Regions from separate parts of the Homo sapiens genome. Here all the other regions are linked to region 1. Evidence: fine-mapped expression QTL. A gene starts in region 1. Each other region holds a variant in brackets. All regions are shown on one strand. Distances are between the middles of the regions. Region 1 holds the start of PTGER4 (prostaglandin E receptor 4). Region 2 has its middle 140 kb from the start of LINC00604. Region 3 overlaps PRKAA1 (protein kinase AMP-activated catalytic subunit alpha 1). Region 4 has its middle 160 kb from the start of LINC00604. Region 5 has its middle 170 kb from the start of LINC00604.

The links. PIP is the estimated chance that this variant, and not a neighbour inherited with it, causes the effect.
Region 2: its variant is the best candidate, but not a certain one, in a credible set for the expression of PTGER4 in whole blood (INTERVAL, PIP 0.64).
Region 3: its variant is the best candidate, but not a certain one, in a credible set for the expression of PTGER4 in whole blood (TOPMed, PIP 0.65).
Region 4: its variant is the best candidate, but not a certain one, in a credible set for the expression of PTGER4 in whole blood (TOPMed, PIP 0.55).
Region 5: its variant is the best candidate, but not a certain one, in a credible set for the expression of PTGER4 in whole blood (TOPMed, PIP 0.72).

The regions. Positions count from the first base shown.
Region 1 is chr5:40,676,469-40,682,824 of GRCh38, forward strand. It overlaps PTGER4 (prostaglandin E receptor 4), which reads left to right and starts at 3,447. Exons shown (of 3, transcript NM_000958.3): 1 at 3,447-4,010; 2 at 4,483-5,392. The coding sequence starts at 4,526. RefSeq lists a silencer at 3,110-3,329 and an enhancer at 4,465-4,992.
Region 2 is chr5:40,377,863-40,384,259 of GRCh38, forward strand. No RefSeq gene overlaps it. Among named protein-coding and RNA genes, the nearest start is that of LINC00604, 140 kb to the left of the region's middle. The variant A/C (reference allele first, on the strand shown) is at 2,894.
Region 3 is chr5:40,782,862-40,789,258 of GRCh38, forward strand. The region is part of intron 1 of PRKAA1 (protein kinase AMP-activated catalytic subunit alpha 1); the gene reads right to left. All of the region lies in intron 2 of LOC124900968 (a long non-coding RNA gene), which reads left to right. Among named protein-coding and RNA genes, the nearest start is that of PRKAA1, 12 kb to the right of the region's middle. RefSeq lists an enhancer at 1,523-1,667 and a cis regulatory region at 1,588-1,601. The variant G/A (reference allele first, on the strand shown) is at 3,611.
Region 4 is chr5:40,397,358-40,403,754 of GRCh38, forward strand. No RefSeq gene overlaps it. Among named protein-coding and RNA genes, the nearest start is that of LINC00604, 160 kb to the left of the region's middle. The variant T/C (reference allele first, on the strand shown) is at 4,231.
Region 5 is chr5:40,404,832-40,411,228 of GRCh38, forward strand. No RefSeq gene overlaps it. Among named protein-coding and RNA genes, the nearest start is that of LINC00604, 170 kb to the left of the region's middle. RefSeq lists enhancers at 352-1,551, 1,864-1,923. The variant G/T (reference allele first, on the strand shown) is at 2,223.

The sequences.
Region 1 (6,356 bases):
GGTGGCACATGCCTGTAATCTCAGCTACTAGGGAGGCTGAGACAGGAGAATTGCTTGAATCCAGGAGGCGGAGGTTGCAGTGAGCCAAGTTGCACCACTGCACTCCAGCCTGGGCGACAGAGCGAGAATCTGTCTCAAAAAAAAAAAAAAAAAAGGCCACTGCAGGTAAATAATCTCCTTTCTTTGCCCATTGGTCCAATCCACATGGGCGTGTGGTGAAACTGGAGGGAAAAAAAGGGAGCGAGCAGAATAAAAGAGCAGAAAGCTATTACTTTGAGGAGTGTAATTGTCAGAGCAGGCTGTCAGAGCAGCCTGAAGCAATCACTCAGTAGGGGCCAGCCTCCACAGCAGTAATTTATCACCACATGAAGATGTTGGGGAGTTAATCACAGCACTGACATGTGTCAGCTCCAGGCATTGGGCTCAGCATAAACTTCATGCTTAGAAAATGAAAATAATTAAGAGGGCACACATTTGAAATGTACCACTAAAAAGGGAAGGCAGTCATCTTAGGGTCAGGTGAATGCCATGTTTGTAATCCACTAAACCAACTGGAAGAGCCTGTGGAGGGCAAATGTGTCCAAGGGTACTTTGCTATTTGTACCTGATAGATGCCTTTCACACTGTTTTGAGTCTCTGCATGGCCTGTCATGAAAGAGAAAAGCAAACACAATTTGCACAGGCTTTGCTACATGAATATTAGTGCTTCAGGAATGCTCTAAGATCCTGCCAGCTGCGGCTCAGGAAGGGGTCCAGGCCAGATCTGACTCATCCTGCTGCCTTCCTCCTGGAAATGATCCCCTTTCTCACCCCACTCCTGCTGGCTGAGCCCAGGTCCTGTCTGTCCCATATTTCCTTTGATCCAAGGAAAACTAAAAGTGGTTACTAGCTCCCAAGCGGCCTTTGTTTATAAATGGGTTCCCACCTTAATATGTTTACTCAAAAAACTCGTCAAATAATTAGCTATAACAGAGCAATCAAACTGATCAAACAGTTCTTGGAGTAGTTCAAACCTTCAGAGAGTTATTTAATGACAGTTTTAAATAACTGAACTGGGGTCTTCCAGCATAGAGAAGTAGGGATTGTGGCAGAAACTGCGAGGGAGAATTTTTAAAGTGCTTAGAATAAAAATCTTTTCATTGAAAAAAAATGACAAGAATTGCCCACATAATTATGGCAATTTTTCCTTTCCTTTTGCAATGCAAATTCCTGGCAGAGTGTAAGAGAAACTGAGCTCCACTGTCCCAGTTTTTCAAACTAAGAAAATAAAATAATTTGCTACCTAAACTTTCAACTTCTACTTTTGAAAGCTAAATTTAAGTTTTAAGAATCGTACAACAAAAGAGACTACAGATAAACCTCATTACAATTTTTTAGTATTGAGCATTAGGTTATTTATTTTCCTTCTTCCTAAAGCTACTGTAGAAAGAAAATTCAAAGGACTAGTAAGAAAAATAGCTCAATTGATAACAAGTCTGGTTTGTCAATGACATGCTAATACCTGTAACAGTTACTAATTATCTCAGCAGTGTGTCTCAGTTTTTATATTTAATATATTCTTCATCATTCTTAAATTAATAAATAGCAACCAATTGTTTTCTCTTTTACAAGCTTCATATGGAAAGAAAATTGAAAAAAAAAATTTGTATTAGCAGAAAGTGAATATAAGGGACTTCCCAACCTCCCCTCCATATATTTACTGACAAGCAACTGACATGAGTGATAGCAAAGCAATGTGGTTAGTGAGGAATGGCGCAGAGTGTGCAGTTTCCTTTTTTCTAATGTTGATTTGTTTTCTGTGCTGACACAATCCTAGAGGTTACTGTTCAAAGGAAGCATCGACAACAGAAGTGATTAGAGTACTGATTAAAAGAAGATTTTTAAGAAAATGACCAATCACCATCAATCTTAATATTGGCTAACAAATGTGTATTTTTCTTTCTCATATTATTAAGTAAATAGTATAAACAGAATAATTCTTTATTAGTATATCCATATAGTGCCTTTTGCAAGTAAATATGATTCTGGATATTTTATGACCTGTAATTACTTGAAATCGGAAAGCCCTTTTAGTTTCTCTTATTACCCATGTGTTGCTGAGACTAACTGAAGAACCAGTTAGGAGGTTTGTTCGTTCACGAAATAACATTTAAGAAATGGGTACCTGCTTATCACATAAAAGAATCCAGTTATTTACTTACCCTGTGAGGAGACATAATATGTTAGAATGCTTGTACACTGCAGATGGGAAGAGGTTTTTCCAGGAATTTAAATTGTGCAATAAGGCCACACAATCTTACTTAAAAAAAATGGTGAAGGGGTTTTAATTACACCATGAAGTTTTACAATTTTTTAGGTTTTTAGTTCTGGTTTTAGAAAACAGAGTAGAAGGATTACAGAGAAAAACTTCACCATTAGACAAGAAGTCAAAATGATTCTAAGGGCCGCGCAAACAGGCTTTTCCAAGAATTAATCATGAGGTGGTGCTTGGAGAATTCCTTTACTCCAGTGACTTTGAAACCCCCTTCTCACTCTCCACTAGTCTTTCAAAGGATTCATGGTGAATTGGGTCTAACGAGTATAACACGGCCGGCCGAAGGCATGAAGCTCACGCTACCCTTTCAGGGCGGAGAAGTTCCCAGGAGGAAGAATGGAGAAAAAGATCGCAGTTAGGCAGTCCTCCCAACCTCACCAAGGCTCCACCTCTCTCCAAAGCCGCAAGGCTCTGCCACCTGCGCCGGGAGAGGCTGCAATCACTGTCTCCTCCTCTTTCTTTCTCTTTTTTTTTTTTCTTTTTTGCCTGGGGTGCCCGACCAAGCGCAGCCCGCAGTCTGGGCACTGCCAACTGACTCCAACTCCTTTTATGGTGAGAGGATGGATTCTTCGTTATTTCCCCGCCCAATCTGGTACCCACCCACCCACCCACCTACCACGTCCGCTGGGCGCACCCAAGTCTAACCCCGGGGCGCACGCGCTAGCGCAGACACCGTATTTCTTCTCCTTTCTCGGCCAACCCTAGGTAGAATCCTAAAACAACTGCCCTCTCTTCCACGATCTAGATGTTGCGGCCCGCGGACAGGAGGTTCAAGAAATAGTACACTCCGAGCGGCAGGCAGCGAGGCGGAAACGGTCGCCGGTTTCAGTGGTGGCCCCACTGGAAGCCGAGTTCAGGAGCGGCTAAGCGGTCGCCGGGGAAAGCACCGGGGCTTCCCAGGGTCCCCTCCGAGTTCCCACTCCGCACCTCCGAGGGCGTGAAAACCACGGGAGCCGCCCCACCCCGCGCGCCCAGCCCCGCCCCAGCCCAGACACCGCCCCCCGCCAGTCTTCCCTGCGGCGCCCAGGGAGGACGCGCTCCGCCCCCTTCCAATCCGGCCAATGGGCGCCCGGGCAGCGCGCGGTTTGCCTCCGCCTCCGCCAGGGAAACTTGGAGGAGGAGAAAAGTTTGTACAGAGGGTGGAAAGGCGAGAGCGGAGCTCCAAGCCCGGCAGCCCGAGAGGAAGATGAACAGCCCCAGGCCAGAGCCTCTGGCAGAGTGGACCCCGAGCCGCCCCCAGGTAGCCAGGAGCGGCCTCAGCGGCAGCCGCAAACTCCAGTAGCCGCCCGTGCTGCCCGTGGCTGGGGCGGAGGGCAGCCAGAGCTGGGGACCAAGGCTCCGCGCCACCTGCGCGCACAGCCTCACACCTGAACGCTGTCCTCCCGCAGACGAGACCGGCGGGCACTGCAAAGCTGGGACTCGTCTTTGAAGGAAAAAAAATAGCGAGTAAGAAATCCAGCACCATTCTTCACTGACCCATCCCGCTGCACCTCTTGTTTCCCAAGTTTTTGAAAGCTGGCAACTCTGACCTCGGTGTCCAAAAATCGACAGCCACTGAGACCGGCTTTGAGAAGCCGAAGATTTGGCAGTTTCCAGACTGAGCAGGACAAGGTGAAAGCAGGTTGGAGGCGGGTCCAGGACATCTGAGGGCTGACCCTGGGGGCTCGTGAGGCTGCCACCGCTGCTGCCGCTACAGGTGAGATGGCGTTGGGCTGACGTTGGGGTCAACGGGTAGAGAACGCAGGGATGCGGCCCTCGCCGAAGAGAGCCAAGAAGGGAAGAGCGCGCTCTCCAAATTGCTTTTGTAACTTGTTTTCAGTGAGCATTTTATTGATTCAGAATCTATCGAGAATAGCACTAGCGAGCTACTTTTCCCTTGAGATGGGTCTTATTCATCTTGGCAATGGAGTGAGTTGGATTGTGGGGAGGAAGAGGAATGGGAAAATCAGTTTATAAATATTAATGTCAGCAAGAGTGTGCTGTTGGCAGGACGTATCGCGAGCCTGGAGATTTTGGTGGCCGCAGTTGGTAAGTGGCTACAATCCAGAAAGTAGGATCGAGTTGCTCCCCTTGTCTTATCAGTGTATCGTTTCTCGGGCGCGGGTCTAACACCTTACAAGTGGTAATTTCCGCTCACGGCAGCTTTGTCTCTCTTCTACCATCCCCAGACCCAGCCTTGCACTCCAAGGCTGCGCACCGCCAGCCACTATCATGTCCACTCCCGGGGTCAATTCGTCCGCCTCCTTGAGCCCCGACCGGCTGAACAGCCCAGTGACCATCCCGGCGGTGATGTTCATCTTCGGGGTGGTGGGCAACCTGGTGGCCATCGTGGTGCTGTGCAAGTCGCGCAAGGAGCAGAAGGAGACGACCTTCTACACGCTGGTATGTGGGCTGGCTGTCACCGACCTGTTGGGCACTTTGTTGGTGAGCCCGGTGACCATCGCCACGTACATGAAGGGCCAATGGCCCGGGGGCCAGCCGCTGTGCGAGTACAGCACCTTCATTCTGCTCTTCTTCAGCCTGTCCGGCCTCAGCATCATCTGCGCCATGAGTGTCGAGCGCTACCTGGCCATCAACCATGCCTATTTCTACAGCCACTACGTGGACAAGCGATTGGCGGGCCTCACGCTCTTTGCAGTCTATGCGTCCAACGTGCTCTTTTGCGCGCTGCCCAACATGGGTCTCGGTAGCTCGCGGCTGCAGTACCCAGACACCTGGTGCTTCATCGACTGGACCACCAACGTGACGGCGCACGCCGCCTACTCCTACATGTACGCGGGCTTCAGCTCCTTCCTCATTCTCGCCACCGTCCTCTGCAACGTGCTTGTGTGCGGCGCGCTGCTCCGCATGCACCGCCAGTTCATGCGCCGCACCTCGCTGGGCACCGAGCAGCACCACGCGGCCGCGGCCGCCTCGGTTGCCTCCCGGGGCCACCCCGCTGCCTCCCCAGCCTTGCCGCGCCTCAGCGACTTTCGGCGCCGCCGGAGCTTCCGCCGCATCGCGGGCGCCGAGATCCAGATGGTCATCTTACTCATTGCCACCTCCCTGGTGGTGCTCATCTGCTCCATCCCGCTCGTGGTGAGTGACCGGGGCTGGGGCCCTACTCGGCCTTTTTCTCGCATCCACCTCCCGCGTCCATTCCCCGCTCCCTGCTTTCCCTCTGAGTCCTTGGCAGTGAACGTGTCGCCTTTAGGTCGGGGCTGGGATTCCCACACTGTTTCTCAGAGCAGGCCCAACCCTCTTTGAAGTCCCAACCCTAACGAGATTTAGCAGGTGCTTTGCCCCTACATCCCCCAGTTTATGTTCCCGGAAGCCTGGGTTTCTTTCTCCACCGAGACAGCCCTTACCCCTTGCTGCCTGACACTGGCCGAGTCTTCCAAGAAAACCCCCCGCCCCCTCTGTTAGACGTGGAGGGGAGCCTGCTGTAGTGTGACTTAGCCCATTCCTCCGTACTGTGAACTGTGAACTGCAAAACCTGAAATGTCAGGGATGGTGATCTGTTCGTTGTAAACCATTTTTAAGGAAAGTGGGGTTTTTGGTGTTTTGATGTATGCAAGGTTTCTTGAATTTCTTCCCCCGTGGATTGCGTAGAATTTTAAAGCTAGAAGAGATATCAAGAGGTGTTTTAGTCTAACTCCCTCACTTCACTGAGGGAGTGAATGATACGCTTAAAATAATCCAGCCGAACCTACACAGTCAAGCTAGGCTCCCTGCTCTTTACCATGGTGTGCCCTGGGAGGGCAGCTTAAAGCACACAAATTCTAATTCATATACAGGGCAGGGTCCAGACTCAGTTTCTTTCATTCTGTCTAGACCAGGAAAGCAAAGTTTCTCAGGGTGACTAATTATGGACAGGCTGATATACATAGGGTATGGGATTTGAATTCTCGACAACTGTGCGAGGTACAGTACCATTTTAGAGAAACCGAGGTTTAGAGATGGCTGTCTTTGTTTCTTCAAGCCAAAGCTCTACAGCTTGTAATGGACCTTAGGCCGTCTGAGGCCAGACCCAGCTCATGTGTTATTACATCACGTCTCCCTC
Region 2 (6,397 bases), 300 kb before region 1:
AGCCAGTGTTAAGCCATGGTAATTACAAGCGAACAAGGGACTTCCCAGACAGAATTGACCTGTGTGTTATTCTGTTCTAATTCTGAAGTCAGGAATTACTCTACCAGACCCATCCATTGCTAAAAACATTCTGGTCTTGTGTCTTGCCCATTCCAGGTGAGAAGAACCTGCTTAGTCCTACCTGTGGATTCAACCACAGACCCTGGCCACAAACATAGTGTCCTGGAAGAAAATTTATTGAACCTGTTTATCTCATTTCCTCCTGAAATATGTTAGACATAGTAATAAGAAGACCTTTGGAGTATTCTAGGCAAAGTATGGTAGAATCGAATATAGGACAATGGCAATAGGAAGGAAGAAGGAAGAGGATGAATTGTGGATGTTTCAAGGGTGAAATCTATTGGACCTGAATAATGATAGGATGAGAAGCCTGAGTAAGGAAAAAAAAAAAAGTCAAAAAAAAAAAAAAAAAAAAGACTACCAGATTTCCCAGTAAGGTAATGAAGGAGATAATTTGTGCCATCTATGGAGGCACTGAGAAAGAAGCTGAGGTTTTTGGCTGTTGATTTTGGCTTTCATTTGGTTTCACTTATGTTTGGTTGCTTTTTATTTTGGTGAGTTATTATGTTGGTGCAAAAGTGAGTGCATTAAAGGTAATGGCAAAAACCACAATTACATTTGTACCAACCTAATAGACGGTGGTTAGAGTGAGATGACTGACTTCATTTCAACTACAACAAGCACTAACTAACCAACTTCTCATTTCCTTCTCTTTGGTTTCTAGTCAACACTTTGTGGTTCTCTAAGGAACACAAAGAGAGACCCCAAAGCACTCACAAGACAGAAGTCCGGAAGTTCCTACATCCAAAAAGTTTCCTAAGGCCAGATGTTACCAACTGGCAACCATCAGACTGACTCTAGCCTTCACAGCATTAATACCTTTCATATACCTTTGAAATTATTTGCCAAGGTTTAAAAGTAGAGACGTTTTATTTTAAAATATAGATTTTTATTTTCTATGTTTGAGAAATAAGCACAGATTCCCACCAGGCATTATCAGTAGGAGCTGACCCTTCACACAGGGAATCTGCCCTTCGTTTTACCACTGCCTCCTCCATTCAGTTTCGTTTTTGAATAGTGCCTGCCTGCCTTCCCTAGGCATGCTATTTTAAATATCCGGCCTTAGGCCAAAAGCCTCAATAAGCTTCATAACCCCTTCCCCACTCTTTAAATGTTATCCCTCAGCTCCCCCTAGCCCAGGTTTGTGATTACCCCTAAGGACCATCCAAAGTAAAGGAGGAGAAATATTTTCTTCTTAATTACAGGGTGGACATTATTTTTTCTCTAACCACTGGATTCTGGGTAGGTGCCAATACTGTTTCACATTTCCATGGTGGCCCCAAATTCTCTCTCCACCTGTAGCCATTATTAGGCCTTTAGTTAACACTGTTTACCCCAAAGGAGACTTAATAGAGAGAGAAAATATAAAATGGGTACAGCTCAGGTGTTACATGCCTGGGGTCTCTGGATTTGGGCTAAACCTCATCTGATGAGTCCTCTTATAACCTGCTGTTTCCTGATGTTGAATTCCTAGACACCTAGGCCTAATCTGCCAGGTTAGACACCTAAATCCAACCATCCATAACAAACACTTGATTCCAAACACAGTATTTGCTCTTGGTAACTGTTACCTCTCAGTGCCCTCCTGCCCCATTCAAAACACCGGACATTAAGCCAACAGCATATCTCAGTGAGTCTAGCAGAAAATATGGGTATGAGTTGTAGCAGAATTATATATGGTTGAGGGAGAGCTTCCAGTGAAAAACTCTGTTATAGTTAGTTCTTCTTACTGCTGGAAATCTGCCTAATCTCTTGGGTGGCTTGAGGCAGAAAACATATTCAGAATCACTGGTGTATATGATTCTTGTTTTAGTCCATTCTTGCTGCTATAACAAAATACCACAGACTGAGTAATTTATGAACAGTAGAAATTTATTTCTCGCAGTTCTGGAGGGTGGGAAGTCCAAGATCACAGCACCAGCAGATTTTGTGTCTGGTGAGGGCCTTTTCCATAAATGGCATTTTCTCATGGTGTTCTCAAATGGTAGAGAAAACCAAAGGTACAATTGCTGTGTTCTCACCTGGCAGATGGGATGGAAGGGCAGACTGCTCTTTGAAGCCTCTTTTATAAGGATAGTAATCTCATTCATGAGAGTGGAGTGCTCATGGCCTAATCACATCCCAAAGATTCTACCTCTTAATACCATTACCTTGAGATTTAAGGTCTAACATGAATCTTGGAGGGACACAAACCCTCCATAGCAGTCCCCTTAAGTAACTCTACCTTCTCCCAATATCCACTTACTTGTGGACTAAAGCCGTCCCTCATGAGTTTCCTATCATGCCATTACTTCCTGGTTCCTAGGTCCAATACCTACTTCTTTCTCACTGGTAGCCCTGGAAAGCTGGCCACTACCCTGTCTTCTAATCACATTTTGACTTCAAGTGTGTGAGGATGCATAGCCAGTTATAAATCTGAGAAAACTACAATTGGATCTGAAAAACTAATTTTATCATGTGAAAGTTTTCTTATTCATTCATTCAACATGAATTGAGCATCTAATATATGCCATGTGATAGAAATGCAGAAATGAGTAAGACATAATAATTGACCTAGTAGAACTGGCAAAATGTATGAATTCTGTAATTCAACATGGTAAATGCTCTAATAGAGGCAGATCACAGCTTTATGGTATATTAGAAGGCATAAACAAGGGGCATCTGACTTATAGAACAGTGTTCCTCAAACTTTATCATGCTTCTGAATCACAAAAAATCTTGTTAAAATGAAGACGCTGGTCTTGAGCAGGGCTGAGAACCTGCATTTCTAACA[A/C]GCTCCCAGGTTATGTCAATGGTGCTGATCCGTGGACCAGTCTTGTAACAAATTCTAGTGACTTGAAAATTAGCATGAAGAATGTTAGAATTGGGCTCCCTCTCTGGTGAAATTAACAGTGTTTGAGACATTTGGAATAACTAAATATTTTAGAAACAGTCTCCACCTTTGTCTTCATAAGAAACCACTGAGACCTATACCCTGAGTTCCTTAGGGAAAGCACTGACTTTAGTCACTAATGAGTTGGTGTCCAGCCAATAGTTTAGGACGGCACAAGAGCCAACCTCTGAATGTCACCATGTGTGCTTCGGGTGAATATTTCTTCTGTGTTGTTAAAGAACCTCCAATGATAGTTCACTTGAACTTCGTCAGACTTACAGACTCATTTGGTGCCTGCTCCTCTAATAAATGTCCATATGTATAATAGACCATTATCTGAAATATGCTGTCATTACAACCTGGGCTTGCAGTTATGGGGAGTGGCTAATCCTCAACGACTCACTCTTTGATTGCTCCTGTTTTCAACTAAAACCTGAAGAGTTGTTGGCTAAGTTTGGTCAGTTAACAATATCATATCTGTAAAATCAAGGTAAAAATGCTCACCCTGCCTACTTTACACAACAAATTGAGATGAGATGTGCTTTGAAAACTTGAAATATAATGAAAGTACTAGCTGTAATTAAAAGAACGTAGATGCTTTTCCTACAGTATCTAGTTAAGATAAAAGTTTCTGAATTTGTGATTATAAGAATAGTCTAAGGTTCCCATTAAAAAATACATACTCTTGGGTCTTATCATTGGAAATTTTGGTTTAGTAGTCTGGGGGAACTATATATGTACGTACAATATATGTAATAAGCACCCCTAAATGATCCTTGTAATTGTGTCACCTGCATTTTACAGATATGATGTTGTTAACCGATCTAACTCCACCAACAACTCCTCGGGTTTTGACCAAAAACAGGCGCACTCAAAGAGTGAATGAAATAGTGAGAAGTTAAGAAATTCTGCATTGAACAATGGAATTTAGTGCACACAAGAGAACTCTACCTCCCATCACCAGTTTAATTATGCCAGATAGTACGTCTATACCATTACCATTACTACAAATGACTCATGGCAAATCCTTCCCACTCACTTAGCTCCTTTCCTCCTGAGAGTTTGTATAAAACATTAGAGACTACGTTGACAGTATGCATAATACAACCTACAAAAATATGTGAGAAGATAAAATTTGAGACTTCCAATATAATAACTTTTTTTCTTAATCATTTTATAATCAAGAAATTGCCCTTGCCTGGAAGTTATATCATTTGAACTTTTATCCCCAAGATCTTCAAAAAACAATGAGTCACTTAAAGATGTCATCTGGTAACTATTTCATTCTAAAGCTGTGCTATATTATGTTCCTTAAAGGTGTGGCCACCAGAAGAACATTACTTTATGATGAATAAATATCCTCTGTTACACTTATGTTTATGTAAAGTATCTATGACTAAAACAAACTTACAAGGTCATCTATGTACCAAATTATAACTGCCACCTAAAGACTCACAGGTGGAGAGTACACATGGATTACTTAAGTAAATTTCTTACCTGAGAGTCACAACTGGCTGGATGAATCCTCTTTTACCTCCTTCAGAGAAACAGACCTATGACTCTAACTAGACAAAATTTCAGACTGAATCTCTTAGAGAATGCAATCAAGTCTATTGATTCAATTATAAAGTGCTACTTTGGTTACAGGGTGACAAACTTCCAGATATTATTATCCCTAAAGGTTATATAGGCTGAAAATCTCAGTCGATTTAAGATAAATCTGGGCTGAAAGATCATAAATGGGGAAATGTAGGACATTCCAGATACAGCCTTTACTTGAAGGTTGACAGAAGGAGGATAAACAGATGCCTGCAGGATGATCCATGGTGACACTGTCACAGGTAAACTGAAGAGACTGTGTCCAAGTCAATCAGTATGTGTGGAGGATTTGTTGCTATTTGTTCTTCTCATTTTTCCAATGTGATCGAAGTTCCTTAGGTTTAGCCCAATAAACATCTCCCTCACTACTAGTGACCACAGCAAAAAAAAAAAAAAAATGTGTGTAACAAAATATGCACTATAGAGGATCAAACTGTTTTACAAAATCTTCAAAAACCTAAATGTTTTCTTAGCAAATGATGGCATGTCCTTCAAACACTAGAACACTATATTGTTTATTTTGCTTTCAGGCTGATTATAAGGTAAATTCAACTCAGAGAGACTTGATCTTCTTCCTAATTTACCTGCTTCAACAAGAAACCATGAGTGTTCATTATCAACCATATTTTGAAAATTGAATAATAAATAATGGTAACTACTTTATTAATAAAACAAATATGTTTTTAATTAAGTGACTGTGGCTGCCAGGCTCCAGAAAGTTAAAATGCCATCAATAGATAGGCAGTGAAATTCTGAAAGCAGTTAAATTGCAGAGTACTTGAGAACTGGTAATTTTAGATGAAAGACAGCTAAGACACAAATTTAAAAGCCTATCCATTGTTCCTTTTTTAAAATGATATGAAGAGATATTGTACATCACAACTGCTATGGACTGAATATTTGTGTCCTCCCAAAATTCATATTAAAGCCTATATCCCCAATGTGATGGTATTGGGAGGTTGGACTTTTGGGAACTTACTAGGTCATGATGGTGGAACCATCCCCTAATCTCATTCATCCTCCACCATGAATGAGATTAGTGCCTCTATAATAAGAGGCAAACAAGAGATCATCTCTCTCTGCCATGTTAAGATATAACAAAAAAACAGCTGTCTGCAAACTAGGAAGAGTGCACTCACCAGATACCAGATCTACCAGTGCTCTGATCTTAGACTTCCCAGCCTTCAAATTGCATAGTATTTTGTTTAGTCTATGGTATTTTGTTGTAGCAGCCTGAGCTGATTAAGACAATTTTCTTCATAGATCATTTTCTTGGGAATGGTGGTAAGATGCTCATAAATGCTTAAAACTACACATAACAATCACACAGCTAGAAGAGATCCCAGAAAATCTTTCAAAGAAAATTCAGAACCAAAGTTCTGGCTCTCACTTTATCTCCAGCCTTAAATGAGCTGGAGAGTCAGTTATGTAACTAAATGTCTCATGCCTCAGATTCCTCATGCATTCATTGGGAAGAATGCCTGTGCAATGTGTCTTTAGGGTTACCATAGAGATGAATGAGGTAATGTATAGAAGAAGCACAATCCCAAATAATATTTCCCTTACCATAACTTTTCTGCTAAATAACATCTAAAATTTTAGCCCTTGTTTAATTTAGCCTCATATTTCTCGTCTCTTGCCCTTTGTAACTACTGTGCCAAACTTTCCACTTTATGATATACAGTAAGTCCACTTAATGCTGTCGATAGGTTCTTGGAAACTGTGACTTAAAGTGAAATGACATACAACAGGTCTTTGAATAATATCATTTCTTTCAACATCCTTGATAAGAATAAAACATTGGTT
Region 3 (6,397 bases), 110 kb after region 1:
AAAGAAGGCATAATAAGCAGAACAAAATCCATAACCAATCAAGATATACCATAAAACTTTTTTCTAATACTTGAGCATTTCATCAAATTATAAATTAATTGTTTTAAAGTATGGTGGTATAACTTCTTCCCTTTTGAAGTAATAGAAGAAATCACAAAAGTATGATCGTATCACAGTGGCAGGAATAGAGGCAGTGCCCTGACAGCCATGCCAAGAGATCATTCAAATTCATAAACACACACACAAATTACATGATCAGGATCTTTTCTTTTTTAATCTGTAGTTTTCCTTCTAAGAATTTGATTTAAAAGTTGATGAAAAAAATGTGCATAAATATGTTCATTACAGTGTATTATGTAAGAACAAAAGGCTGACCAATTTCAGAGAACAGTTTAATACATTGTTATTCCAACCTAACAGACTCTCATAGGAAAACTATAGAAAATGTTCTTACAAACATAAAAAAAAATTATATATGCATTTTACATTTTTTAGCTACACAAAAAAATCATATAAAAATGTTAATATGCTAAAATGAAAAGTTATTCCACTGTGATCCTTTTTGAATTTTACTTGCTGCTTTGTATTCTTATCAGTTAGAAAAAAAATTTCCAAGGCCGAGTGCGGTGGCTCAAGCCTGTAATCCCAGCACTTTGGAGGACGAGGTGGGTGGATCACAAGGTCAGGAGTTCGAGACCAGTTTGGCCAACATGCTGAAACCCCATCTCTACTAAAAATACAAAAAAAATTAACCAGGCGTGTTGGCACGCACCTGTAATCCCAGCTACTTAGGAGGCTGAGGCAGGAGAATCGCTTGAACCCGAGAGGCGGAGGTTACAGTGAGCGGAGATCATGCCACTGCACTCCAGCCTGGGCAACAGAGCGAGACTCCATCTCAAAAAAAAAAATTTCCAAAGGGGAAAAAAACAATTGGAAGTAGTATTAGCAGATTCACCTTTTTTGGAAGTAGAGTTGAATAGGGTTGAACCCCTAATTCCAATTGCACATGTGAAAGCAGTATGTATACAAAGCATAGATTTTATAGTCGCACAGACCTCGGTTTTATTCCTGTTTGAAGGTACTTACTAGATGTTTGACTTGGGCAAGTTAAAGAAACTACAACCTTCTATTTACTCATCTTTAAAATAAGAATACCACATACTCCATAAGGGTGACTATAACAGATACATGGAATAGTGTTTGTAAAGCACTTTCCACAATGCCTGGCATATAGCAAGTGATTGATAAATAAATGGTAGCCTTTATTATTTAGGGTTATTTATTTTCCACTGCTCCCAGACCTGTTCCCCCATCTGTATCTAATCAGCCCTGAATTATTTGTTTTAATCTCTGAATAGCCAGTTTTATCTCAGCTCTGATTGGTGATACCTATCCATGTAGATGCAATAGCATTCCTTTATCCAGGTACATAAGTGCTAAATAAATAATAGCTGTCATTTTAATGTATCTAGCTCCCATTCCCATATACTTCAATCCCTCCAACCCGCTCCACCACTCCTACCCCACCACCACTACCACCAATCCTCAGATTTCTACCTTCCAAAGTTCAACTCATTTCCTGACTTTGGTTAATGTTCAACAGATTACTATCAGACATATATACACATAACACCAATCCTTGACAGTGATTTCACCTACTACAGGAACACTTGTTTGGTCACAGAAGAACACAGAGGAAAAAAGCAGCTTAATTTGATGTGAGTTTTAATAAACAAGGGCTCTTTTTTTAACAAAAACAATTTTTTACAACATAAATCTAGTTCCTTTACAATACATAATTAAAGTATACAACTTACTAGTTAATATTTGCAGCATACTCACTTTGTACCCAAACATACTGACACACTCTCACCAACCTGGAAGACTTGGCATTATTAGCAACATTTTACAGGAAACTGAGGCACAGAAAGATGAAATAACTTGCCCAAAGTTACACAGCTAATGAGTGGAAAAGCCAAAACTTCAACCCAGGTCAGACTCTTAAAGTTATGCTTTTTCCGAACATGGTTAAGTGAAATTTGATTTTTTTAAAAAGATAATCCTCAGAAGACATGTAAAAATACACATCCTTTTAATAAAACATAAATGGAAGTTAAACATATCAGAGAAATTCTTAATGTATATACAGTTTTGAAAAGAATAGACTGAATTCCTTGTAGTAATAAGAATTATCCAGAAATGCATTCAATCATACAAATTCATTCATTCAAGAAATATTTGAGTACCAGCACCTACTATGTGCCAGGCACTGCTACTATGACCTCCTTCCTGTATCAGAACATGAATCCAGTGTACTGAAAACCTGCCTCATATCAATTTCAATGTCTTAGGATTCCACAGACATTTTATTTTATTTTATTTATTTTTTATTTTTGAGACGGAGTTTTGCTCTTGTTGCCCAGGCTGGAGTGCAATGGCATGATCTCAGCTCACTGCAACCTCCGCCTCCTGGGTTCAAGCGATTCTCCTACCTCAGCCTCCCAAGTAGCTGGGATTACAGGCACCTACCACCTCGCCCGGCTAATTTTTGTATGTTTAGTAGAGATGGGGTTTCACCATGTTGGTCAGGCTGGTCTTGAACTCCTGACCGCAGGTGATCCGCCCCCCCTCGGCCTCCCAAAGTGCTGGGATTACAGGCATTAACCAACCACGCCCAGCCCACAGACATTTTACTAATACATTCTATCAAACCAATTTAAAAGTTACTCAAAAACTAAGAAAGAAAGCATAAAACTAAAAGTATACAAAATATAAAAACAAGTGTAGTGAAGTGAATAACGTCCCCACAAAATCTATGTCAACCCAGAATCTCTGATTGTTATCTTATTTGGAAATAGGATCTTTTCAGACGTGACTAGTGAAGGATTTGAAGATGAAATCTTACTGGATTTAGGGTGAGCCCTATATCTAATGCCTGGTATCCTTACAAGAAGAGGAGAGCACACACACACACACACAGAGAGAGAGAGAGAGAGAGAGAGAGAGAGAGAGAGAGAGCAAGCGAGCGCAGCCATTTGAAGACAGAGGCAGAGACTGGAGTTATGCTATCACAAACCAAGGAACATCAGGAGCCACAAGAAGGTGAAAGAGGGCTGGGCACGGTGGCTCACGCCTGTAATCCCAGCACTTTGGGAGGCCGAGGCGGGGAGATCACCTGAGGTCAGGAGTTCGAGACCAGCCTGGCCAACATGGCGAAACTCCATCTCTACTAAAAATAGAAAAATTAGCCAGGAGTGGTGGAACACACCTATAGTCCCAGCTACTTGAGAGACTGAGGCAGGAGAATCACTTGAACCCAGGAGGCGGAGGTTGCAGTGAGCTGAGATCATGCCACTGCACTCTATTCTGGGTGACAGAGTGAGACTCCGTCTCAAAAAAAAAAAAAAAAGCAGCAGCAGCTGGAAGAGGCAAGGAACAGATTCTCCACTAGAGCCTTCAGAAGAAACATGGCCCTGATGGCCCTTTGATTTCAAATTTCTCACCTCCAGTACTGGCAAAGAATAATTTTCTGTTGCTGTAAGTCATTGAGTCTGTGGCATTGTTACGGCAGCCCTAGAAATGGATATAGTTAGTTTATCAGTTGAAAAGT[G/A]GATTTTCTAAAGAAGTACCAAACAGTAATCATAGAGCTGAGGAATAGTATAACTGAACTGAAAAATTCAATAAAGGGGTTCAACCACAGGCTACATCAAGCAGAAGAAAAGATTAGTAATTAGAAGACAGGCCACTGGAAATCATACAATCTGAAGAAGAAAAAAGGATAAAGAATGAAAAACAGTGGTCAGGCATGGTGGCTCACGCCTGTAATCCCAGCACCTTGGGAGGCCGAGGCAGGCAGAGCACTTGAGGTTAGGAGTTCAAAACTGGCCTGGCCAACATGGTGAAACCCTGTCTCTACTAAAAATACAAAAAAAAAAAAAAAAAAAAAAAAAAGCTGCCAGTGGTGGTGCACGCCTGTAATCCTAGCTACTTGGGAGGCTGAGTGGAAGGATCACTTGAACAGAGCAGGCAGAGGTTGCAGTGAGCCAAGATCTCACCACTGCACTCTGGCCTAGGCAACAAAGTGAGACTTTGTCTCAAACAAACAAAAAGAAACAGAAAAAGAAATGGTAAAGAAACTTCTTCAAGCTGAATAAAGAAGACACTAATGAGTGACAGGAAAACATGAAAAGTATAAAACTCACTGGAAAAAGTAAGTATACTGTCAACCCCAAAACACACTAATACTGTAATGGTGGTAAGTAAATGAATTATATATCTAGTATAAAGGTTAAAAGATAAAACTATTAAAAATAGTTAAAGCTAGCCAGGCGCGGTGGCTCACACCTGTAATCCTAGCACTTTGGGAGGCCGAAGCGGGCATATCACCTGAGGTTGGGAGTTTGAGACCAGCCTGACCAACATGGAGAAACCCCGTCTCTACTAAAAATACAAAATTAGCCGGGCGTGGTGGCGCATGCCTGTAATCCCAGCTACTCACGAGGCTGAGGCAGGAGAATAGCTTGAACCCAGGAGGTGGAGGTTGGGGTGAGCCAAGATCACGCCACTGCACTCCAGTCCCGGCAACAAGAGTGAAACTCCATCTCAAAATAATAATAATAATAATAATAATAATAAAGCTACAATAATTTGTTAAAGATACAAATTATTTTTTAAATGTATATCGTGACATCATGAACATAAAACATGGAAGAGGGGGAGTAAAAATGTAGAATGTGTGTATGTGATCAAAGTTAACTTGTTATCAGCTTATATACCAGTTATAAGATGTTTTGTGTAAGCCACAGGGTAACTACAAAGCAAAAGCCTTTGCTTTTGCAAAAGATAAAAAGAAAAAATCCAAAGTGGACCACTACAGAAAGCAATCGAGCCACAAAGGGGGAAAGTAATAGAGAAAGGGACAAAGGTTCTACAGAAACACTAGAAAACAATTAACAAAATGGCACTACTAAGTCCTTACCTATCAATAATTACTTCCAATGTAAACAGATTAAATTCTCCAAACAACAGGCATAGAGTGGCTAAATGGATAAAAAACAAGATCCAACTCTGCGCTGCCTATAAAGAGACTCACTTCACCATAAAGGACACTCATAGACTGAAAATGAAGGGACTGAAAAAGATATTCCATACAAATGCAAACAAAAAGAGAACAGAGATAGCTATATTTATTTCAGACAAAATAGACTTTAGGTCCAAAGAGAACAAAGCTGGAGGCATCACACTACCATGTTTGAAAATATATTACAAACCTATAGTAATTAAAACAGCACGGCACTGACATAAAAACAGACATGTCCACCAATGGAATAGGATGGATAGCCCAGAATAAATGCATATATCTATAATCAATGGATTTTTGACAAAGGTGCCAAGACTACACAATGTGGAAAGGACAGTCTCTTCAATAATGTCATTTGGAAAACTGGATAGCCACATACAGAAGAATGGAAATGGACCCTTATCTCACCCCTTAACAAGTATCAACTTAAAATGGATTAAATTTAGGACCTGAAATTACAAATCTACTAGAAGAAAACTTAGGCGAGAAGCTCCATGACACAGGTTTGGGCAATCATTTCTTGTATATGATCCCCTAATGCACAGGCAACAAAAGCAATAATAAACAAATGGGATGACATCAAACTAAAAAGCTTCTGAACAGCAAAAAACAAACAAACAGGCCAGACGCGTAATCCCAACACTTTGGCAGGCCGAGGCAGGCGGATCACAAGGTCAGGAGTTCGAGACCAGCCTGACCAACATGGTGAAGCCCTATCTCTACTAAAAATACAAAATTAGCTGAGCGTAGTGGTGCACACCTGTAGTCCCAGCTACTCATGAGGCTGAGGCAAAAGAATCGCTTGAACCCGGGAGGCGGACGCTGCAGTGAGCCAAGATCACGCCATTGCACTCCAGCCTGGGTGACAGAGGGAGACTGCATCTCAAAAAAACAAACAAACAAGCAAAAACAAATAGAGTGAAGAGACAACCCAAAGACTGAGAAAACGTATTTACAAATCATGCATCAGATATATAGCTAATATCCGGCCAGGCATGGTGGCTCATGCCTGTAATCTCAGCACTTTGGGAGGCCGACGCGGGTGGATCACTTGAGCCCAAGAATACAAGACCAGTCTAAGCAACACAGTGAGACCTTGTCTCTATAAAACATACATAAATTAGCCAGGCGTGGTGGTGTATGCCTGTAGTCCCAGCTACTTGGGAGGCAGAGGTGGGAGGATCGCTTGAGCCCAGGAGGTCAAGGCTGCAGTGAGCCATGATCATGCCACTGCACTCCAGCCTGGGCAACAGAGTGAGACACTGTCTCAAAAATAAAAATAAAAAAAAAGACAAACAAATGGCCAACAGATAGATG
Region 4 (6,397 bases), 280 kb before region 1:
TCCCTAGGGAAATCTTACCCATTCTTCAAAGATGAACTCAAAAGTAGTTTTCTGTGAAGCCTTCCCTGCTAAACCCAAGTTGAGGGTAATCGCTCACAGAACTTTAGAACTGGACAAAATCTCTGTATTTTTATAGTTAGGGTCCATGTTTTGGAGGTATGATTAAAGAGATTTTAGTAGGAAAAAGGACTGACTGATTCCAGCTGTTGGTATTCTATTTGGAATTATGATTGTTATTTTTAATGCTTTTAAATTGCACTAGATTCTAAGTTGTTGGGGTGGAATCCCTGTTGTACTCAATATTGTCTGTCCATAGCATCTAAAACAGTGCATGAACCGTAGTTCATACTTAATAAATACCAGTTGAATGAATTAACCCTATATTATTAACCAAGCAGGTTTAATAGACACTATTTGCTGCTTCTTATCAATGTCAGCTTAATTGTTCCTCCTGAGTATCCATGGATATCTACCAGCCACATTGATCATGTTAAAGGTCATGAGGAGCAGTTTTACAAAAATCATGTATTACTTAAGTTTTTTTGGTTTTCTTACTATTATTCACTCCAACACAAGAATTTTAAAAAATTGAAATAGAATAATAATAAAAATCAACACGAGTAGTGCTATCTAAACCAAGTGATTTGGTGTACATTTTCTCATTTAATCTTCAGAGCAACTTGTAGTTAACATAATTATTCCCAGTCTACAGAAGGTTAAGCTGAGGATGCTTTGCTCATAATCACATGGCCAAGCAGAGACCATGTTTCTCAGCGCCAACCACATGTCTTTCTTACTTCATTGTTAGATTCACTGTGACTAGGGAGTACATAATCTCTCAAACCCATCCACACTCATTGAAGTCTATGGAAAACAAACTGGAGACAAAAACACCCATAGGCAACAATGAGTTGACTCTTTCTGTGGTTAGTTTTTCTCTGTATTTTTTCAAATCTATTCATTCTTCCTGACTACAGCATCATTTGCCATAGTCTTCTCCTAAGTCAATGTCATACTTCCTCTCAACCACTTGAGAGATTGCAGATCTTTGTCATTCAACATCATTTAATTTCCTGAATAAAGAAACAAAAAAAATGGAAGAGGTTTAGGTATACATCTAGAGTTGATTTTAATTTCCTGTTTGCCCTTGTAATTATGGTTTTTCTTCTTTGCTTTTGAAAACTATAATGAGTGTTTGAAGTATTACAATTACTTTCGATTGCAAAAACTGCAATTACTTTTGCACCGGCCTAATATATGTTCTATGTGGTCTTTCTCATCTTTAAAAGAGCAAGCAATTGATTATAACACAATGGTGTCAACAGCCATTGGATATCTACCAATTATCCAATAGGACAATTTATCTAATGAATTACCTTTTAGGTTACCTATATGCTTAAATTTGGTTACAACACACTTTTACACTGGTATATGTAAGATAGAAGAACATACAGCTCAAATCTCGAGTTCTCTTGCTGCCAATATTGATGGAGTTTATGAAAAATTAAAATGATGAAGCATACTTCAGGTGTTCATTTCCAAATGCAATGCATTTTCTATTTTTTCCATTTTAAAAATAATATGCACCCATTGTAAAAAGAAACTTCATCATTATCATCGTTAAATAAACAGAGGCAATTTCCTTCATAACCTCTTCTGTTCCACCTTCACCTCCAAGTCAACTCCCACTCCAGTGGTATTATGTTAATAATTTGTGTGTTTGCGTGTTTGTGTGTGTGTGTGTGTGTGTATACACGTGTTTCCAGGAAGAGACAGAAAAAATGCAGATATATAGAAAGCATGATACACATTTTTAATTTGATTATCTTTGCTTACTAATATATCATAAACGTCTCTCTTACCAGTATAATACAAATTGACCTCATGCTTTTTAATAGCTTCATAGTGTTTTATGGAATGCTTATACTACAAATTTGCTAAATCATTCCCCTACTAGTGATATTTTGACATACATTGACAGATATTTTTAATTTTTTTTATTGTGTGACAATCCACAGAGGACATCTTCATGTTTACATCTTTGTGCTCATTTGGGCATTACTACTAAAGAAAGTCTTAGACAAAGAATTCCTGATTCAAAGTGTATGCATTTTTAAAATGCAAGTCATGAGCTTTAGAGTCACACTGACAGTTCATATTACTTTCTTACTTCATAAGCCTGTTCAATTACCCTCCAAAGGGCTATGAAAATTTCTGCTTTCCACACAATGTATGAGTCGCCTTATTTCTTTACACCCTCACAGTGTGGATATCATCAACTGGCTTCACTTGAATTCCCCTGAAAGCAGGTCCTGAGACAAAAATGTGAAGGCAATACAGATGGTCACTGACTTCCAATGATTCCACTTATACTTTTTCAACTTTACAATGGTGCACAAACTATAGACATTCAGTAGAAAACAGTGTGATTCTCTCACATGATGCTGGGCCATGCAGTAAGCTGCAGCTCTCACTCAGCCACACAAAGGTAAAAATACCAGTACTGTACAGTACATTGTGTTGCCAGATGATTTTGCCCAACTATAGGCCAATGTAAGTGTTCCAAGCATGTTTAAGGTGGGCTAAGCTAAAGTATGATGTTTGGTAGGTTAGGTATATTAAATGCATTTTTGACTTAGTCATATTTTCAACTTACAATGGTTTATCAGGACATAACCCCATTGTAAATGGGGGAGCATCTGTAGTTTATTTTGAAGTTAATTCCAGGAATCACTATGAGGTTGCAAGGAGTAAGACAAGAAGTGGGGAACAAATAGACAGAACATTGACTAGCCAGTTACCTCTATTCGTAGTGTGGTCAACTATCACAGTTTGCATGGAATCAATGGGGTGTCCCAGGACACAGAATTTCCAATGCTAAAATTGGGACAGTTCTAGAAAAGCAGAGATAAGTTGGTTACCCTACTGTATGGGCAATTGGGCTCAATTATTCTGGAGACCCATGGAAAGGCCATATGGAACACAACTTAGGATTGTTCCAACAAAAGGCAAAGATGTGAAGTATTTATTCACCAGCCCTTAGTAGTTTGGAGGTACTCCAAGGCATTCTGGCTCAGTTACTTCCCATCTGACCTGTGCAGGGACAAAGCATGCTCCTGTGTCCAAAGATAGCCCACTGGAGGAAAGGTGCAGGAATTTGTTGTCATGTCTGAGAAATGTCTGCAGACAAACTCTGGGATCGGCCAAAAGGATGTGGGGGTGGGAGTGCCAATACCATCTATGCATGATTATTTGTCCCTAGTCTGATCAGCAAAATGATGCTATCTCAATATTGTTCTCATTTACATTCTCTAATGAGTGGGAATTTTGGACATAACTTCATATTTGCATCCCTTTTTGAGACTCAAGTTTTCAAGCATTTAAATACAGTTTTAGGGTAGGTTATTTTCTTGGCCTGGGACAACCAACTTCCATAATAGAAAAAAAATTTCAATCAGTTTACCTAAAATATGTGTGTATTGGAATGGAATGGGATGGGATAGGGGAGCAGGGTAAACTCTTCCAGGTGAATTAAAGGTGAGAATTAATGATTTAATTATAGTATTTTCAAGGCCACAATCCTTGTTAGACTTTCCTTTACCTTATTTTTAAAAAACTGTACATATGTATGGGGTAAGTATATACATATGTGTCATTATACATATTTATCATGTACATATTATCATATATTGTATACATATACATATCATTATATATTGTACAGTTTTATGTACAGTTTTTTAAAAAGGTACGTATGTATGGGGTACAATGTATAGTGATCAAGTCAGGGTAGTTAGTATATCCATCACCTCAAATACTTATCATTTCTTTGTGTTGGGAATATTTCAAGTCTTCTCCTCCAGGTATTTTGAAATATACAATAAATTATTGTTAACTATAGTCACCCTACAGTGCTGAAGCGGAATTGAGCTCCTTAAGTTTTGTACATCATGTTTTTTTAGGTTCCCACTGAGCTGATTTTTGGCCATGATTCACACATATCTCTCCTCCAAGGCTCCTCTCACAAAGCATTTCCTCCCAGTCACGTTTTCAAATAGCTTCTCATTCCCTGTATGCCTGTGTGTGCATGGCCTCATCTCACTTTCGCTGTGACCATTGCTGCTCATTTCTATTTCCTTCAAGCCTCATTTACTGCTGCCTAATTTGCCTTCTAGCTCAGAGGAAAGCAGAGATGTTTAATGGAGCTCTCAGAATCATCATTACTGAAAC[T/C]TGACACAGTCAAATCCCTTGTGTCCCTTAATACGCATAATATTGCTTAGCCTAAAAGCCACAGTCTGGGAGACTCACTGTATCATAATGAGAACATTCAGAAGATAACTAAATCATAAATTTAAACTTCAGATTCTATCACTTCATTGATTAAGCTCTCAGACATTTCCCCAACTACCTAAGACCTGTCATTATTAATCTTACCTGTTTTATTAATTCCATTTCACTGTGTTTCTTAACACATATGTTACAGCCTCCCACCAAGTCTATCCTCCAATCATGATTACAAACTGGCAGTACCTTAGAATGATGATCTTTTGATAGTTTTATTACCGAGCAGAAAGCAATCTGTATAGTTTCTGTCTCACAAATTAATTGCTTAGACTTTTCCTGCTAAGCTTCCACCTCAGAACTTGTCCCCATTTCAAAGAGTAAACCAACCCTCATTTTACAAAGATAGCAACTAAAATTCCAAGACATTAAATGACTTGCCTGAGGCTACACAACTCATGGCCACAGACAGAACTCTTCCTCCTAGGCTACTTGTGTTATGTCAGGGTGATTCATCTTCTCTATGCTTCTCTGAAAAAAACAGAATCTGTCAAGCAGTCATCTCCCCATCCCCCCACCTGCCTCAGACCCTGTGCTTCAGTTCTGTTCTCTACCACGACTCTACCCTACCCTTCAATCACTTCACTTCAGAGAAGCTAAGACCCCTTCAGAGCATTAGCATGTCCACAGGCATGGCATGAACTCCAGTCTTCTCCAGATACTTGGGCACTCACAGTGTCCTATCTGGATAGTCATTCACCTCTTTGTGAATAATGCATCTGCCTGAACAACTTAAATTCAAGGCCCCTGAGTGCATATATATTTATAGAATTCCTTGCACTCACCATTGTGCCTAAATGCCTATCGCAATTCATATGGTAGATATTTCACAAGTATTTAATGAGGATGATAATTATAACAATGTCATGGGAAGAATCAATTTTTAAAATTGTGTTGTGGAAAAAATATACACACATATATAATATACATATATAATACACATATACATATAGCTGTATATATATACATATATGTATATGTACATATACATATATAATACACATATACATATAGCTGTAGTTTTCTATTCTTAAGAATAAAATTAATCATATTGGGCTTGAAAGAATGGTAAGAGATAATGGCTTACCAACATAGTGCTGCCTGTACAGAGACCAGACCGGATTTCACAAGGGTGTGTATTTGTAAGAAGGTAAGGAACTTGTTTCTTTTTTTGTCTTGCTTTTGTTTTTGTGTTGCTGTTTATTAGAGCAACTGAATTACAAACCTGAAGAGATGAATTTAGGTTTAGAAAGCTGACAATTTTAGTAGACCCCTGATGTAAAATGCCTTTTTCAGTATACTTCCCCAGAGACGGCAAAGATCCTGGACCTAAAGTCAAATTCTGCAACATTAGGCAACTGATGAATCCCAAAGGTGATTGCCTGGTTGATGGGTGATGGTCAAAGGAGTATCAGACACAGGAGACCACTTCTGTGGGTCAATGAACAATAAGGCCAGGAAAAGGCAACTCACATGTGTAATCTTGCCACAGTTTTGGTAAGTAAGATGTTAGGAGTTTGAAATTCAGCCTACATCTCTGCCTTAAGGTATATGTGGAGATCTTTAAAGTGAGTGGTGAAGAAAGGGTTAAGAAATAGGATTTAATGGGGAATAGATTAAAAAAAATGAGAAGGAGTCTTAGCTAAACAAAAGAAGAAAGCGGGTTTTATTTTTGTTTTTGTTTTTGTTTTTTAATTTTCTGGGTGTTTAAAGGTAAGCAATGGTTTTTCATTTCTACCAGACTAAGACAGATTGCAATTGCCTTAGAGCAGTTGGGAATTTTGTAGGCAAAGGAGAAACCATATTAGGAAAAAAGAATATATCGCTAAGCTGACAAGATACTGTAAATACCCAAAACTAGGACTTATACAAGCCGAGGGGGTTAAGCTGCCCCTTGATAGACTGGTACAATGAGAAAAAACAAAGTTCGCATGTCTGATTATGCACGAATTTCCTGAGTGAAAATCTTAGCTTGGATTTGTAACCCAAGTCTTTTAATGCATTGAGGAAAGATTAACAGTAAGAGCCTAATATGGTTTGGATCTGTGTCCTCACC
Region 5 (6,397 bases), 270 kb before region 1:
AAACTTCACATTTATGAAGATTAGGAAACACATGTATACATACATATAGTTCATGAGGCAGTGTAAAATGAGGAAATCTATTTTTTCTACTTGGATAGAACTGGTAGAGTTTGGCACAATTCCACTTTAAAAAATAAAGTATTCAGTATTCCTTGTGTAAGGTGTTGCCAGAAGAAGAAATTTGCTGAGAAAAAAATTCATCCTTTCTTTGCAAGGAAGATCTTAGGACAGTGGCATCAACATGAGGCACTGCATTGACAATGCTTTTGCATTCTGCTTTGATTTCTTTTTGGAAGTTGGTAGAGGTAAATCACAATTTATTTTTAATAATATGAAACTGTGAAAGTTAAGTATGGATAATGACAAGGAAAAGTATTTAATTCTGTCTTTATACCTGGACTTGAAAAAGAACAGTAACCATTCTAGCCATTTAATGGAATTTCTAAACCATATTATCCTTCCCCAGAAATGGACATCAAGTTCTATGGATCAAAAAGCTGTAGCTGACCTTAGACTCCAAAAAGAACCCAGTAGGCTGGACTTAAGCATGCTGGAGGATGTTCACATTCTTAAGTCAGGGTTATCGTAAGTTATTTCCTGCATTTCATCATAACTGGTCACATGTGGCCACTTGTCAGATCTGGGACAAGCATTTCCAAAAGCAAATAAAAGTGTGTATTTTTTTCATCTTTCTAAACAGCTCTGAGTTCAGATCCTGTCAAGGTTACCTTCCTATGATTCGTGAAGATGTCATCCTAAAATATAAAAGGAAAGTACATTGGTAAAAAGTCAACCTTTGAATTTTGTGCTTGGAGTCTTTAGGAGTCACTGATTAGACTACAAACACCCTTGTCAGCTCTATTCTTTTAGGTCTCATCAGGACTTTCTTGGCCACCAGCACACAGCAAAGCTCGGAGGGACCGGGACCCATGTTTAGTACCAAGGTGGTAGGTTGCGATGACGGCAAGTAGACACCACAAGAAGCTGAAAGGGAATTCAGGGTAATATAACCTCTTTGGAATTTCAAGAGAATGAAGAACAAAATTTGTCTTTTCAGAGGGCTGAGATTTAAAAACCACCCTGTCAATGACTCCTGAAAAACCAAGAGAAGTTTGGATAAAACTCCTAGTGATTAGTTCCCCAACTGCTTATACCAGGTAAGAAATGATAGCTCTTCAGAGCTCCCTTTCCATATCTAAAGAACTTGAATTGTTCTTTGAGGCAATTTGAGGCCACTGTCCCAGTGGAAAGCTTATTTTCAAATTGTGTAGCGTGCTACTATATCAGACTCTGAAACACTGCATGTGCTAAAGTAAGTCAGAGATGCCTAGTCAGATTAGGAAAAAAATATTGTAGGCAGGCAACCAGACAAATTTGGCAAGAAAGGATGTCAGGGGGATTTCCAAAGTCTCCTAACTGAGGGACAATCGTAGTGACTATGAATAATTCAGAGTGAGTTAACGAAGAGGATCCACCAATTTCAGAAACTATATAATATTTTTGAAGAAAAAGAGAGTTTAAGGACTATGAAAACACATGTCAAGAAATATTATTCTTCTTTTAATTGTTTTCAACAAGAAGGTCCCCCTTAAATATCAATTCTGCCATGAAGAAAAATAAAGGAAAAGCTGTTTCATAGAAAAGCTCTCCTCCTGGCAAGATCTTACCACAGATGTTTTTCAGATCTTTAAAGATGGATTATTAATGGTTTAGCTCTCCACTACATTATAAAGCATTTTTCAAAGGTTTGTTCTATCTCTGTTTACACTATCTGATAATAATAAAGCAGAGTTCGTTTTTAGCCAATGAAAATGACTCTTCACAAGGCTGTACATTTGTTTGAACCCAGACAAGCCACAAAAAGTACAAACTCTTCTGCATGTTCAAAGTTCTCGAAACACACATGCCTAACACCACCAACAACAAAGACAGGAACCGCGGACCAGTTCTCCAGTCCCAGCCTCAATTTTTTGAGTAACTGCTTCACCATGTAGAGACCTTGCTCTGATCCATCTCTGCATCAGAGAGAAAAGAAAGAAAAGAAAAACGTACACTCCTATTTTCATCACTAAGACAGGCCCTTTCCTTTCTCTGTGTGAAAACATTAAGAGTTTATGGTTGCCTGGAGAAAATTTACAATCTGGCCCCACAACCTCATGTGACTTTTTATAGAACAAGGAAGTACGGGAGCCTATATGCAACAGTGACAATGTGCTGTGGCC[G/T]CTCAGTGTTGGCCACAACAGCTTCAGTTACTGAAAACTCTGACCAACAGGGGAAATGTACAAGGAGGCTATCAGGCATTAGCTGTGGGAGAAGAAAACAAGTTCCCCTCGGGGCACAAAGAGAAAGCAACTGTTATGGCAGGTCAAGGCCTAGAGCTGAAAGAAAAGGAAATACAATTACAAAACCAGATGCAAGGCAGCAGAAGGGTCTGGATTTCTCTTTCAGCTGGTGAATCTACATATGGCTATAACCTTGCTGACCTCTCTGGTCATCAAACCACAGCAGAAGGAGTGCCCCAGATGATGAAGAAATATTATAGTGTTTGGAACACCTTACCTGTCCATAAAATGTTGATGTATTTAAATATCTATATCCTGTGTGCTTATCATTTGTGTTCTTCTTGTGTGTTACAAGTGACTAGATTTTCTCCAAAAAATTCTATAAACCAGGCCCTAAACTGACATTATCTTAGCTTGTGTTTTCTTTAGCTATTTCTACACAGTGAAAGACAGGGCTGATTCTTCTTTCCAATGAATGAAAAAAATAAATTAGGCCAGGTGTGGTGGCTCACACCTGTAATCCCAGCAGTTTGGGAGGCTAAGAAGGGCAGACTGTTTGAGCCCAGGAGTTCAAAACCAGCCTGGGCAACAGGGTGGAACCCCACTCTACAAAAAATAGAAAAATTAGTTGAGCATGGTGGCAGGTACCTGTAGTCCCAGCTACTCGGGAGACTGAGGTGGGAGGATCACTTGAGCCCAGGAGGCCAAGGCTGCAGTGAGCCATGATTGTACCACTGTACTCTGGCCTAGGTGACAGAGTGAGACCTTGCCTCAAAGAAAAAAAAAAGTATATCTTCCAAATGATATTATGTAAGATGTCCTTAAGTATAGTATATAGGAATGTAGTTTAGAACTTCTCTCCCGGAGAGCTGGGGTTCAGGGTGGGCCTGCAGGCCTCCTAGCTTCTCTTTTAAGTATTTTAGGAGGTGAAGTAGACTGTTTTGGGGAAGAATCACTTTCTGAAAAAGGTACCCAGTGTCCTTTGGCTATTCCCTCATAACCCTGCCCAGTCTGAGCTGGTCCTCTCTTTGTCTAGACACCTGACAATTCCAGGGCTCAGAAATGAGAACATAAAAGACAGTTTAAGAAAGATAATATGTTAGAAGGACAAAGGAGGCTGTCCTACATAACGGAAATAAGTGAAGTTAAAAATCAAACTAGAAGCGCCCTATGGCAGATTAAAGATGGCCACAAATTCTTTAACACTCTTCCTTTTGAGAGATGGGGTCTATTTCCCCTCCTTTTGAATCTGAGCTTGCTTGTAACTGCTTTGATGCATGCAGTGTGGCCGAAATGACACTCTGCCCTCTGGGCGTTAACTCTAAGAGAACTGGCAGTCTCCACCTTGGTCTCTGGGAGCTTTGAGCCGCCACAGCTCTGACTGCCTTGCTCAAGAGATCATACGGAGAGGCCCTGAGACTATATGGAGAAGGGGCCAGCTGAGCCCCCTTTCCCACCATCCCCATCAAGGCAGCAGGCACAGAACCCTCCAGAGCAGCCTGGGCACCGGCTGAATACTTCTCCAGTAATGCCAGTGAAACCGTGTGGAGCAGAAGAATCCCCAGCTAAGCCCTGCCTGAATTCCTAATCCACAAAAGTATGTCATATAAATAAATAATTTATTAAAATGGTTATTATTTTAAATCACTGGGTTTGGGGTAACTTGCATGCAGTAATAGATAACCAGTACACAGCCTCTGAGTAGAGTACATAATTTTTAGAATAAAATCTCCAATTGTGGAAAGTGTGATAAATTCCAAATTTTTGTGGTCAGTTAAAAAGAAGATTACATTCTAGGTGTGTATGTTCCACAACATGTATACAGAGAAGAGAAAAGCTAAGGAGAAAAGACATGAATCTCTTGCCTGCTGGCAAAGCTTCCCCAAACAGATATTCTTCCAAAGGCTGCATAGAAGCTGGATCATTGTAAATCTCTCCAACAAATATCTACTGAGTAACTGCTACAAGTACATCACTGTGTTAACCACTAAGGTTTTAATAATGATAAAAATATAATTTCTGCCCTGGGAAATTTTTCTCTCTTGTGTACCATTAGCAAATTAATATGTAAATTTTAAAATTGGTTTAAATCAGAGGTTGACAAACTTTTTCTGTAAAGAGCCAGAGAGTGAATGTTTCAGCTTTGTAGGCCAACTCTGCCAGTGTAGTGCAAAAACAACATTTTAGACAATACATAAACAAATGAAAGCAATGGAATCCCAATAAAACTTTATTTGTGGATGCCAAAATTGGAATTTCACATGATTTTCATGTGTCTTGAAATATTATTCTTCTTTTAATTGTTTTCAACAATTTGAAAATATAAAATTGGTCTTTAATACACAGGCTGTACAAGAGGCAGTGGGCTGAATTTGATCCTCAGGTATAGTTTGCCAACCTCTTTTTAAAATTCTTATCAGATGGGCCTAAAGCAGGTAGAACTTGCAAAAAGTTAAAGAGCATTATCAGACGAATTTAATGTTCTGGATTGTCATGGATACAAATAACCTGCCTTCTATTTCCAGTATTCTCCATGCATAAGGAAGGGCATGAACTTATAGCCTGCAAGAGCAGCTTAGAGTTTTACCAGGGAGGAGCTCTGGGAAGCATCAAGACCCCAGAGGAGGGGAGGACTCAGCCCAAGGAAGGAGAGAAGGAACCATAGAGATGAGTGGGAGGGCACGTCTGCAAAGGCAGCCGGATGTTGTGCAAACATTCAGCAAGAAGCACTCAAAGAGCGAAAGTGGGACTTCATGGAGAAAGAACAGTGTGACAATATTTTTTAAAAATTTTCCCCCTTTGTAAATTCCTAGTGCCTTCGAGTAAAGCTGTTCATGGAGCATATTTAAGACATCTAGAGCCAAGTAAATTGGAAGCACAGAAATGAATACAGAAGAAAATTTAGGACATCCTTTTTATTGAAAGGAGTTCATCAGGTTGCCACCTACCCTTCCTTTAAATTTTGCTATTCCACTTTATGCTGAAATAAGCTCATTTTGGCAAAAGACTTGCTAAAGACTTGATGCTTTGTATATTAATGTTTTGTATTTGCTTTGTTTTTATATAAAGAGCCTTCAAAAACTATTGTAAAAATTAAAAATATATGCAATAGATCTCCACAGTAACAGTGCACAAACATGCACCCTGCCCCACACCATCCGCCAAGTACGATTATATGATTGCTTAAATGAGCTAACTCAGAAGAAAAAGGAAGTCTGAGACACACACATTTCTACGCTTTGTATTCAGAGATGATGTGTCTCCTGGTGTATATTCCCCCTGCATCCTTCTCATGCTTTCAACGTCATGAAGGTATAAAAGTGTACTCCCTATCACCAGGGTAGCAGCCGTGACCTACATTTTCTTCATGTTCTGATGCTGTTTGTGGCTTCCTCTTCCCTTCAGGCAGCGCATGATGTCTTTGTTCAAAGCACTCTTTCCAATAGCTGATGACTTAGTGTCAGGCAAGTCCACAGCTGTTTCAATCATTCTGTCCACACAGACACCAAACAACAGGAATTAGGTATGCATGGAAACCAACCTAAGATAAGAGTAGTCTGCTCTGGGGAAAAAATAGAAAGTCATTTCACGATATACAGGCAACATTTTGTGTGATTTATTTGACATCAACTGGATGACTAATCGCTGTGGATTTCTTTTCACTCAGATCACATGATTCTTCTCTAGGGTCTCAATCAACTATTTCCATTTTGCTTAACGTAAAAAAATCAGAAGCCTCCAACAGTCAACAGTACCATTTTTAAAGTAAATTTTGTACACCTCCCCCACTCCCCAATCATGCCCTTTTTAATTACTGCTTTCGCTCTCATTAAAAGAATATAAGTTTAAAATTTCGAATGTGGATGTCAAGTTTTGCTGTTATCTTTAGTGTTGTTTTCTATATGAATGAGCCTAGCTTTCACACTATGGACACAGCCTGTTTAGACAAGAGCAGTGCTTATGTAATCATAGCTTCCCAAACCACAGCAACAGCACAAATTTGGCAGCTAGAAGGAAGGAAGTGAGGGTGGGGAAGGGAAAAGGAAAGAAAGGGAGTTTCTGTTTCAATCAAAGATATATTTGGCTCATATTTCCACCTCTTTTAACTGAGATTC